2 separate regions of the Homo sapiens genome follow, and region 1 is linked to region 2. Evidence: fine-mapped expression QTL. A gene starts in region 2. The other region holds a variant in brackets. All regions are shown on one strand. Distances are between the middles of the regions. Region 1 has its middle 4.7 kb from the start of PRSS57. Region 2 holds the start of FSTL3 (follistatin like 3).

Region 1 (5,363 bases), 24 kb before region 2:
GTCCACACTCTCTTTCCCACTAAATTCTTCTGACAGACAATGTCATTTACATGTTGTGTTCAGCGTTTCCTTCCTGCCTCTCTGCTGAATGTCAGCCCCACAAGGGCAGGAACTTGCCTGTCTTCTTCACTGCTGAGTCCCCAAGGCCCACAACACTGTCTGTACACAGTAGGTGCTCAATAAATGCTCACGGAATGAGTTGAGTGAATGAATGGATGGTTTCCTGTCTTCTACCCTCTTCTCTGACTGTGATGGCTTCCATGGGAAGGACGGGGCAGGATCCAGCTTACGGATGGGCAAACAGGCGCTTTACAAGGGGCGCCAGGGCCCCAGTCCCCACCAGCATGCCGCATCCAGTACCTTGCTGTTTTTTTTTTTTTCCAACGGAGTCTCGTTCTTGTCACCCAGGCTGGAGTGCAGTGGCGCGATCTCAGCTCACTGCAACCTGCATCTCCTGGGTTCAAACAGTTCTCCTGCCTCAGCCTTCCGGGTAGCTGGAATTACAGGTGCCCGCCACCACCCCCAGCTAATTTTTGCATTTTTAGTAGAGACGGGGTTTCACCATGTTGGCCAGGCTGGTCTCGAACTCCTGACCCCAGGTGACCCGCCTGCCTCAACTTCCCAAAGTCCTGGGATTACAGGCGTGAGCCACTGTGCCCAGCCAACCTTGCTGAATTCTCATCAGCACTCTCGGCATTGCCCCAGGGCAACCCATTCCCTAGATGGGAAAACTGAGGCCAGAGAGCTCCGGGGAGCAGGGCCTTTGGACAGCTCAGGGACCCCCAGTAGCGGCCAAGCCAGCCCTCTCCAGTCTGGCTGGAAGGCAGGTAGTGTTGGGTTGTGCTATGTGTATTCTTTTTTTTTTTTTTTTTTTTTTTGAGATGGAGTCTCACTCTGTCGCCCAGGCTGGAGTGCAACGGTGCAATCTTGGCTCACTGTAACCTCCTCCTCCCAGGTTCAAGTGATCCTCCTGCCTCAGCCTCCCGAGTAGCTGGGATTACAGGCACACACCACCGCACCCAGCTAAGTTTTGTATTTTTAGTAGAGATGGGGTTTTGCCATGTTAGCCAGGCTGGTCTGGAACTCTTGACCTCAGGGGATCCGCCTGCCTCAGTCTCCCAAAGTGCTGGGATTACAGGCGCAAGCCACTGCGTCCAGCCAGTGCAATGTGTATTCTTAAGGCAGCTATCTTCCATTTCAAGAAATAGGAAGCAGGTCCGGGCACGGGGACTCACGCCTGTAATCCTAACATTCTGGGAGGCTGAGGCGGGTGGATCCTCTGAGGTCAGGAGTTCGAGAGCAGCCTGGCTAACAGGGCAAAACCTGTCTCTGCTAAAAATACAAAAAAAGATCAGGCGCGTTGGCAACGCCTGTAATCCTAGCACTTTGAGAGGCCAAGGCAGGCAGATCACCTGAGGTTGGGAGTTCAAGACCAGCCTGACCAACATGGCGAAACCCCATCTCTACTAAAAATACAAAATTAGCTGGGGGTGGTGGTGGGCGCCTGTAATTCCAGCCACTCAGGAGGCTGAGGCAGGAGAATCGCTTGAACCCGAGAGGCAGAGTTTGCAGTGAGCTGAGATCATACCACTGCACTCCAGCCTGGGCAACAAGAGCGAAACTCCATCTCAAAAAAAAAAAAAAAATTAGCTGGGCGTGGTGGCGCATGCCTGTAATCCCAGCTACCTGGGAGACTGAGGTAGGAGAATCTCTTGAACTCAGGAGGAAAAGGTTGCTGAGAGCCAAGATCGCGCCACTGCTCTCCAGCGTGGGTGACAGAGCGAGACTCCCTCTCAACAACAACAACAAAAAAAAAAAAAAAAAAGAAGAAGCAATGTCCTGTGGATATACATTTATTGGGGTTAAAAAATAAAGTGAGGCTGGGCACAGAAGCTCATGCCTGTAATCCCAGCACTTTGGGAGGCCGAGGCAGGTAGATCACAAGGTCAGGAGATCGAGACGATCCTGGCTAACACAGTGAAATCCTGTCCGTACTAAAAATACAAAACAAATTAGCCAGGTGTGGTGGCACACACCTGTAGTCCCACCTACTTGGGAGGCTGAGGTAGGAGAATCGCTTCAACCTGGGAGGCAGAGGTTGCAGTAAGCAGAGATCACACCACTGTACTCCAGCCTGGGTGACAAAGCATCTGTCTCAAAAAAATAAAAATAAAGTGAGGCCAGGCTCAGTGGCTCATGCCTATTACACCAGCACTTTGGGAAGCCAAGGTGGGAGGATCAGTCGAGGTCAGTTTGAGGCCAGCCTGGGCGGCATAGTGAGACCCCATCTCTACAAAAAAACTTTTTTTTTTTTTCTTGAGACGGAGTCTCACTCTGTCGCCCAGGCTGGAGTGCAGTGGCGCGATCTCGGCTCACTGCAAGCTCCGCCTCCCGGGTTCTCGCCATTCTCCTGCCTCAGCCTCCCGAGTAGCTGGGACTACAGACGCCCGCCACCGTGCCCGGCTAATTTTTTGTATTTTTAGTAGAGATGGGGTTTCACCGTGTTAGCCAGGATGGTCTCGATCTCCTGACCTCGTGATCCATCCGCCTCAGCCTCCCAAAGTGCTGGGATGACAGGCGTGAGCCACCGTGTCTAGCTTTTTTTTTTTTTTTAATTACCCTGGTGGTTTTGTGAGCCTGTGGTCCCAGCTACAGGGAAGGCGGAGCCAGGAGGCAGAGGCTGCAGTGAGCTGTGATTGCAGTCTCAGCCACCAGGCAACATCTCGTCTTGAAAAACAATTTTTCGCAGGGGAGGGGCCGGGCGCGGTGGCTCACGCCTGTCATCCCATCACTTTGGGAGGCCCAGGCGGGTGGATCACCTGCCATCAGAAGTTCAAGACCAGCCTGGCCAACATGGTGAAACCCCATCTCTACTAAAAATACAAAAAATTAGCTGGGCGTGGTGGTGGGCGCCTGTAATCCCAGCTACTCGGGAGGCTGAGACAGGAGAATCACTTGAACCCGGGAGGCAGAGCTTGCAGTGAGCTGAGATGGTGCCACTGCACTGCAGCCTGGGTGACAGAGCGAGACTCCGTCTCAAAAAAACAAAATAAATAAAATAAAAATGTAAAATTAAATACAATAAAGGAAGCTGTTGTCACCATTGCTGTTGACTCCCTGCAGTGGCTGGTGTCTGAGCTCCTGAAGAGCCGCTCAGATCTGCCATGGAGAGACCCTCCAGGAGAATCGCAGTCCAGCGGCTCATGGGTCAAGACCCTGTGCTGTGTGGCCCCAGACAAATCGGCTCCCCTCTCTGGGCCTCAGTTTGGGAAGT[G/T]GGAACAGTGACCCCCACTCAGCCCCCTCCTCAGGGCTGCCAGGAGCTCGGTTTTCTGAGACGCTGGAGGACGGTTGTTTATTTCACAACTGTTCACCAAAAGGGAAGGAAATGGCCCAGCTCTGGATAGAATCGGTCCCGAGAGGCAGTGGGAGCTCCTCTGAGGCAGCAGCCCCGGCCCCCTGGCTCCTCACTGTGTGGCAGGGCTAAGGCGCTTACCCTCTCCCTACTGTGTCCCCATCAGCGACCGGGACAGGGACAGCATCGTGAGGGAACAAAGTTCCACACGCCTGCAGCTTCGGGCAATTCTCCTTCTAACGCCCGTGGAGCTGGGGACGTTTTCCAGGTCTCTGCCTCAGTGCTCCGCGACGGAGGGCAGCAGGGGAGGTAGGAGCAAGTCCAGGGGACCCACTCGTGCTGACGCGACGACCGTGGAGACCAGAGTGCCTGCTGTCCAGTCGTTTGACAATATTGACGGACAGCCGGGTGCGATGGCTCACGCCTGTAATCCCAGCACTTTGGGAGGCCGAGGCAGGCCGATCACTTGAGCTCAGGAGTTTGAGACCAGCCTGGGCAATATGGCAAAACCCATCTCTACCAAACAAATAAAACAAAACAAAACAAAAAAACACAAAAATTAGCCGGGCGTGGTGGCAGGCACCTGTAATCCCACCTACTTGGGAGGCTAAGGCAGTAGGATCGCTTGAACTCAGGAGGCAGAGGATGCAGTGAGCCGAGATCAAACCACTGCACTCCAGCCTGGGCGACAGAAGGAGACCCTGTCTCTAAAAGATAAAAACAGGGCCGGGCGCAGTGGCTCATGCCTGTAATCCCAGCATTTTCGGAGGCCAAGGCGGGCGGATCACGAGGTCAGGAGTTCAAGACCAGCCTGGCCAACATGGTGAAACCCCATCTCCACTAAAAATACAAAAAATTGGCCGGGCGTGGGGGCAGACGCCTGTAGTCCCAGCTACTGGGGAGGCTGAGGCAGGAGAATCGCTTGAACCCGGGACACTGAGGTTGCAGTGAGCTGAGATCACGCCACTGCACTCCAGCCTGGCGACAGATCGAGACTCCATCTAAAAAAAAAAAAAAAAACACCCACACACAAAAAAACAATATTGATGGAGCACGGCCCATGCGGTCACAGCGATGCCAGACGGTCCAGTAGACCACAGCAGAGCAGGAAATGGTCCCCAAGTACACGGACCCTGAGCTGGGGTCCCACCTGTCCCCAGGCCCTGGAAACAGCTTTCCATTTCCCAAAATCTTTCCTGCAGCTGCTGTAACGAATTCCCAGAAACGTAGTGGTTTAAAATGATACCAACTTGGGCCAGACATGGTGGCTCACACCTGTAATCCCAGCACTCCGGGAAGCCGAGGCTGGAGGATTGCTCGAGGCCAGGAGTTCAAGACCAGCCTGGGCAACATGGCAAAACCCCGTCTCCACAAAAAATGAAATAATGAGCCGGGCCTGGTGGTGGCAGGTGCCTGTGGTCCCAGCTACTTGGGAGGCTGAGGTGGGAGGATGGCTTGAGCCTAGGAGGTCGAGGCTGCAGTGAGCTTTGATTGCACTGCTGCACTCCAGCGTGGGCGGCAGAGCAAGACCCTGTCTCCCTGTCTCAAAATAAATATATACATAATAAATGAGGCTGGGCGCGGTGGCTCACACCTGTAATCCCAGCACTTTGAAAGGCTGAGGCAGGCAGATCACGAGGTCAGGAGATTGAGACCATCCTGGCTAACGTGGTGAAACCCCATCTCTACTAAAAATACAAAATATCAGCCGGGCGTGGTGGCGGGCACCTGTAGTCCCAGCTACTTGGGAGGCTGAGGAAGGAGAATGGCATGAACCCAGGAGGCGGAGCTTGCAGTGAGCCGAGATCGCACCACTGCAGTCTGGCCTAGGCGAAAGAGCGAGACTCCATCTCAAGAAAATATAATAATAATAATAATAAACGAAATGGCACCAATTTATTCTCTGGCAGTGCTGGAGGTCAGAAGCCCCTGCAGGCCCTTCTGGGCTAACGTCAGGGCATCGGTAGGGCTGGCTTTTCCCGGAGGCTCCAGGAGAAAATTCGTTTCCTGC
Region 2 (5,363 bases):
GAAGTTGCAGTGAGCCAAAATCGCACCACTGCACTCCAGCCTGGGTGACAGAGCGAGGCTCCATCTCAGGAAAAAAAAAAAAAAAAAAAAAAAAAACCATCATCCTCCAGTGCGGAGAATCTTATTCATTCGTTCTGTGCCACTCGCCAACCAAGAGCCCCTAGTCTGATGTGGGAGGCATCCTCTCAAAACAGGGTCCCGAGGCAAATGCTTGTTAAACATGCAGCTGTAACCCCACCGCAGACCCTGGAGTCTGCAGTGAAGGTCCCTGGTGTGGACATTTGGGGTCACAGGCCAGAATGGCAAACCCACCTTCCCAGGAGCTAGGTGCAAGCCAGACATTTATCGACCAGGTGGGAAGAGCCACCCAGGCAGAGAGCTCAGCCCCAGCAAAGGCTGGAGCCACGTGGTCTCTTCCTGAGTCCTGAGCTGCAAGAGGCTGGAGCCTGGGAACCGGGAAGTCCCCCCAGTCCCTCTCTGAGGCTGGGATCCCCCTGCAGCCTCCTACATACCCCTGTGACGGGCTCAGTCCCTGGACGTTCGGCCCTCGACCACCATGACTGTTTGTGGCTGGTCCTGAGCTGAGACGTCTGCCCTGCTTCTGGCCTGAGGTCTCACCTTTGCAGGGAAGGCAGTGGACAAGGCCCAAGAAGCCGAGGAGGTTGATCTTGTTCCCCGGGTGGGTGAGGTTGGACCAGGCGGTGTCAATGTTGCCGGAGGCACAGCACTCGGCCCGGGTGACATCAGTCTGGAGCACCAGGCTGCAGGTGGCCTCCTGGCCCTGCTGGAGCCAGCAAACACCACCTGCGGGCCGGGGAACGGGGTGCTCTCCTGGGCCACTCCTGACACCCAGCTTCTGGCCCGCCCACAGATGCATGCAGGTGGTGCTGAGTAGTTACGCACGGAATGATCTACCCCCACCCAGGAAGAAGGGGCAGAAAACCACATGGGTGTCCCCACCCTGGCTCCAGAACCCTGGAAATGTCTCCTCCCCTCTGAGCTCCACGTGCCCCCCCCCACAGCCTCACCACCAACCCCCACCCACCCCAGGAGGTCCCTTCCCGTACCCTCCAAGCCCCCAGGCCAGGGGCTGGCACCCTGCCCAACCCCTCAAACACCACCAAACACCAGGCACTGGGCATGTCAGGGTCAGCAGGCCCTGGAGCCGCTTCTCCCGCCTCTGCCCTCTGTCTAGACAGCACCCGAGGGCGAGGGCACGCGGAGCCCCGCGCCTGGCAGCCCCCCCACCGCCTGGCCCGCCTCTTACTCACTCCAACTTGGGAACATTCCCCTTGCATGAGCTCACTGTCTCCCCAGGGACGTGGCCTTCGGGGAGGGGGCTCTGCTCTCCCTTTGGCGCAGGGCTGGGGTGGGGTGGGGCTGCAGGGATGGGGGGTGGGGAGCCAGAGAGCCCCCCATTTCTTCCCCCGTCCCTGGGGGCAGGAACGGCCACAGCCCCCATCCCAGAGCGCTTGCTGGTTCACAGACACTGCCAGGGACCAGCTTGTGGAACGCAGCACCTTGGCACCCATCATAGGAGGGGAAACTGAGGCCAGGAGTGGGGCCGTCTCCTGCCTGGCACCTCCCGGCAAGTCCCAGGTGTGAGACTCCATGCCCCGTCTACCCAGGACCCGGGAAAGCTCTCAGCCCCAGCTGGAGGGCCTGGCTCCCGACACCCAGCACTACCTCTCGGCACCAGGACCGACCCGGACGGTCGCGGCTAGAACCCTGGCTTTGCCTGCTACAGGCTGTGTGACCCTGAGCCTCAGTTTCCCCATCTGGAAGACGGAGATGAAGAGAGCTCCGGCACTATCGGGATGGCACAGGTTCAGGGAGGGGAGAGGTAGACACTAAGCGCTCAATAAATGTCAGCGGTCATTGTGATTAGAAACCTCTGCTCTGCTGACCTCTTGGTGACCCTCCTTCAGACCTTCCCGGCTCCAGCTTGCGCCGGACACCGCCCTCGCCCCCGCCGCCGCCGCCGCGCCCCCCGACGTCCCCCCGGCCGCATTCCGCGCAGCCCCACGTGGGTGGCCCGCCCCGCCCGCCCCTCTGGCCGCCCCACTCACCGGGCGCGGGGTTCCCCGAGCCCATGGAGCTCACGAAGCCCACGGCCCAAGCCAGGGCCCCCCAGGGCAGAGGCCAGAGTGGCCCTGGCGCCCCGGGACGCATGGCGAACGCAGAGACGGCAGCGGCACCGACTTCCCAGCGCGCGGCCGGCGCTCCCTATAAAGGTCCCGCGGGCCGCGGGCGGGGCGGGGCGCGGGGCGGGGCGCGGCGCGGGAGTGGCGGGGGCGAGGCCGTGTCCCGCGCGGGGTGGGCAGGCGCCGGGCCCGGCCGCTGCGGGGGGCAGTTGGGGGCGAGCGCCCGGGTCCCCTTCCGGAGCCAGAGAATGCATTTGGGGAGATGTGGCTGGACCCAGGGCGGAACCGGGACAGGGGTGTGGGTTCGAGGTGGTGGCAGCCTTTTGGGTGGATCGAGGGGCCGTCTCCAGGAATTAAAGTGGGTTTGGGGGTCTTCAGTTTCAGGGGTGGCGGTGAGGTAACGGGGACCCAAGAGGAGCACGTCTGTGGATCCCTGCATCCCGTTTCTGTGATTTGCATGTGGTCACTTTCATGGTCCAAGTGTGGTCTGAGCCCCCCAACCCGGCCTCCTTGTTCCCGACCCGCCCCACACACCCAAAACCTCAGCTGGATATGGTTCCCTGCTCACAGCGCGGGCCGCGCACCCGTCCACCTGGCCGCTGGAGCCGGCCTGTGGGTGGGGAGTGGTTGGGTGTGGGACAGAACGGGGTGCGGCCGGGACAGACCCAGAGACACAGCTCCTTCCAGCATCTCGGACAACAGCAGGCCTCGCCCAGCCACGGCCCCCAGGGAGGCCACTGCGTGTGTGTGTGTGTGTGTGTGTGTGTGTGCGCGCGCACGCCTGGCCTTTGTCCTGGGCCCCTGGGCAGCTCTGCCCCATCAGCCCTCCAAGCCTTTGCAGACATTCCCCCAGATCACCTCAACAAGAATGTTTACTAGGTTTTTTCCTCTCCCTCCAAGATTCAGCAAACACTGTTTCCAGCAGAGGCGTTTCCAACAATGTATGACAGCGACATCTGCGTGGGCCTGGAGGCGCTGCGCCCGAGGGGGCTTTCGTGCAGCCAGACACATTTCCTACTCTGGAGCTGATTCTGTCATGGGGGCCTCCAGATTTGTCAGGCGCCCTTGGCGAGCGCAGGGGAGCCCCTCTGTTCCTGCTTCTAGGGCATCAGTGAACATCTCTTTTGGCCAGAGGGACCCTGCGGGGTGCTGGGGTGCCACGGTGACCAAGGCAGACCCCATCACACCCTCACCGAGCTCCTGGTTTGGACAACAAAATGCAGAGACAAATTAATCTATAACTTCAAGGAGTGGTAAATGCTTTCAGGAAAATACAGAAGGTTGAGGTGGTGGAGAGCGGTTGGGTGTCTGCTGGGCATGCCTGTGTCTGGCCACTCGCTGTGCCGGCATTGCCCACCCCGCAGGTGGAAACGGACGTGTCCAGCAGCCCCACGGCACAGCCCCTTCTCTGGCCTGAGTGAGATCTGTGCCCACAGAAGACACACCTGTACCCTTTCCTCCACCTTAGCTGCCCAGCCTGTGTCCCCCAGCAGCCAGTGGCCAGGGGCCAAGTTCTGCCTTAGTGGCACTGAGGGGGGACACCCCGCCGTCTTGACCTGGCCTTGGCCTCTGGCATTTCCCCCGGGAATCTCCCCGGCTTGGGGAGCAGGGCAGGGACGGGACCCTGTATTCTCACTGAGGGGGGACACCCCGCCGTCTCGACCTGGCCTTGGCCTCTGGCATTTCCCCCGGGAATCTCCCCGGCTTGGGGAGCAGGGCAGGGACGGGACCCTGTGTTCTCACTGAGGGGGGACACCCCGCCGTCTCGACCTGGCCTTGGCCTCTGGCATTTCCCCCGGGAATCTCCCCGGCTTGGGGAGTGGGGCAGGCACAGGACCCTGTGTTCTCACTGACGGGGGACACCCCGCCGTCTCGACCTGGCCTTGGCCTCTGGCATTCCCCCGGGACTCTCCCGGGATTGGGGAGTGGGGCAGGGATGGGACCCTGTGTTCTCACTGAGGATGTGCGGGGGCTGGACAGTGTGACCTTGGCCAAGACCTGACCCCGCCGTGGCTTGGCCACTCCGGCCTGGGCTGTGCGAATCAAAGGGTCATTGTCTGGCTGGCGTGGGTTCCGGCCCTCTCCGGGGAAACCGAGGCCAGCTGCCAGTGGCCTCCTGCTCCCGGCTCTGTCTTCCCTAACCCAGAGGCTCTGTGCAGGGTGACCTCTAACAGGTCACTGACCCTTTCCAGAGCGCCGCCTCCTCCTGAGACCCCAGTGATGACCTCCCCTCTCCCGGCTCTGCCCCTCTCCCCACCCTATCCAGGCCCGAGGCTCATCCTAGGACTTCCAGCCCGCAGCCTGGCCCCTGCGGCCCACTTCCTACCCCAGCTGCCATAACACTTCTCCCTGGCTCAGACACCCACCGTGGCTCCTCGTGGCCTCTGCTCACCCCCCAGGCTTCTGTCTCCCTCCAGGTACATCCTGACAGGTAAACAGACAGTGACAATCCAGTGTTGTTCTGTGGCGGAGGATGCCCAGATGGCAAAGGTGCCCCAGGCCTGACCCGGGCCTGGGGGAGACTGAGGAAGGCTTCCCAGAGGAAAGAGACGTTGAGGTTGAGACTCGAACGTCAGACGGAGCGGCAGGGGTGTGCGCTGGAAACAGACGCTTGTGCTGTGAGTGAGGGGGAGAGCAGTGGGGGGTGGTCAGCAGAACGGCGGTCCCAGAGACCATGGGGCCCTCATCCCTAGAACCCGTGGGTGTCCCACCCTCCCTGGCCAAAGGGGCTCTGCAGATGGGACTGAGTTGAGGGCTTTCACACAGGGGTTCATCCTGGGTTATACGGATGGCCCACTGTCCTGGAAGGGTCCGTAGAAGAGGAGATGCCTGGCCGGGCGCGGTGGTTCACACCTGTGAACCACCAACACATTAGGTTCACACCTGTGAACCTCCAACACATTAGGAGGCCGAGGCAGGCAGATCACTTGAGGTCAGGAGTTCGAGACTAGCCTGGCCAACATGGTAAAACCCTGTCTCTACTAAAAATACAAAAAAATTAGGTGGGCCTGGTGGTGTGCGCCTGTAATCCCAGCACTTTGGGAGGCCGAGGCAGGAGGATCACTTGAAGTCAGGAGTTCGAGACTAGCCTGGCCAACATGGTAAAACCCCGTCTCTACTAAAAATACAAAAAAATTAGGTGGGCCTGGTATTGTGCACCTGTAATCCCAGCTACTTGGGAGGCTGAGGCAGGAGAATCACTTGAACCTGGGAGGCAGA

What was found. PIP is the estimated chance that this variant, and not a neighbour inherited with it, causes the effect.
Region 1: its variant is the best candidate, but not a certain one, in a credible set for the expression of FSTL3 in whole blood (TOPMed, PIP 0.61).

Annotation. Positions count from the first base shown.
Region 1 is chr19:697,444-702,806 of GRCh38, reverse strand. No RefSeq gene overlaps it. Among named protein-coding and RNA genes, the nearest start is that of PRSS57, 4.7 kb to the right of the region's middle. The variant G/T (reference allele first, on the strand shown) is at 3,275.
Region 2 is chr19:673,233-678,595 of GRCh38, reverse strand. It overlaps FSTL3 (follistatin like 3), which reads right to left and starts at 2,204. Exons shown (of 5, transcript NM_005860.3): 1 at 2,070-2,204; 2 at 619-804. The coding sequence starts at 2,172.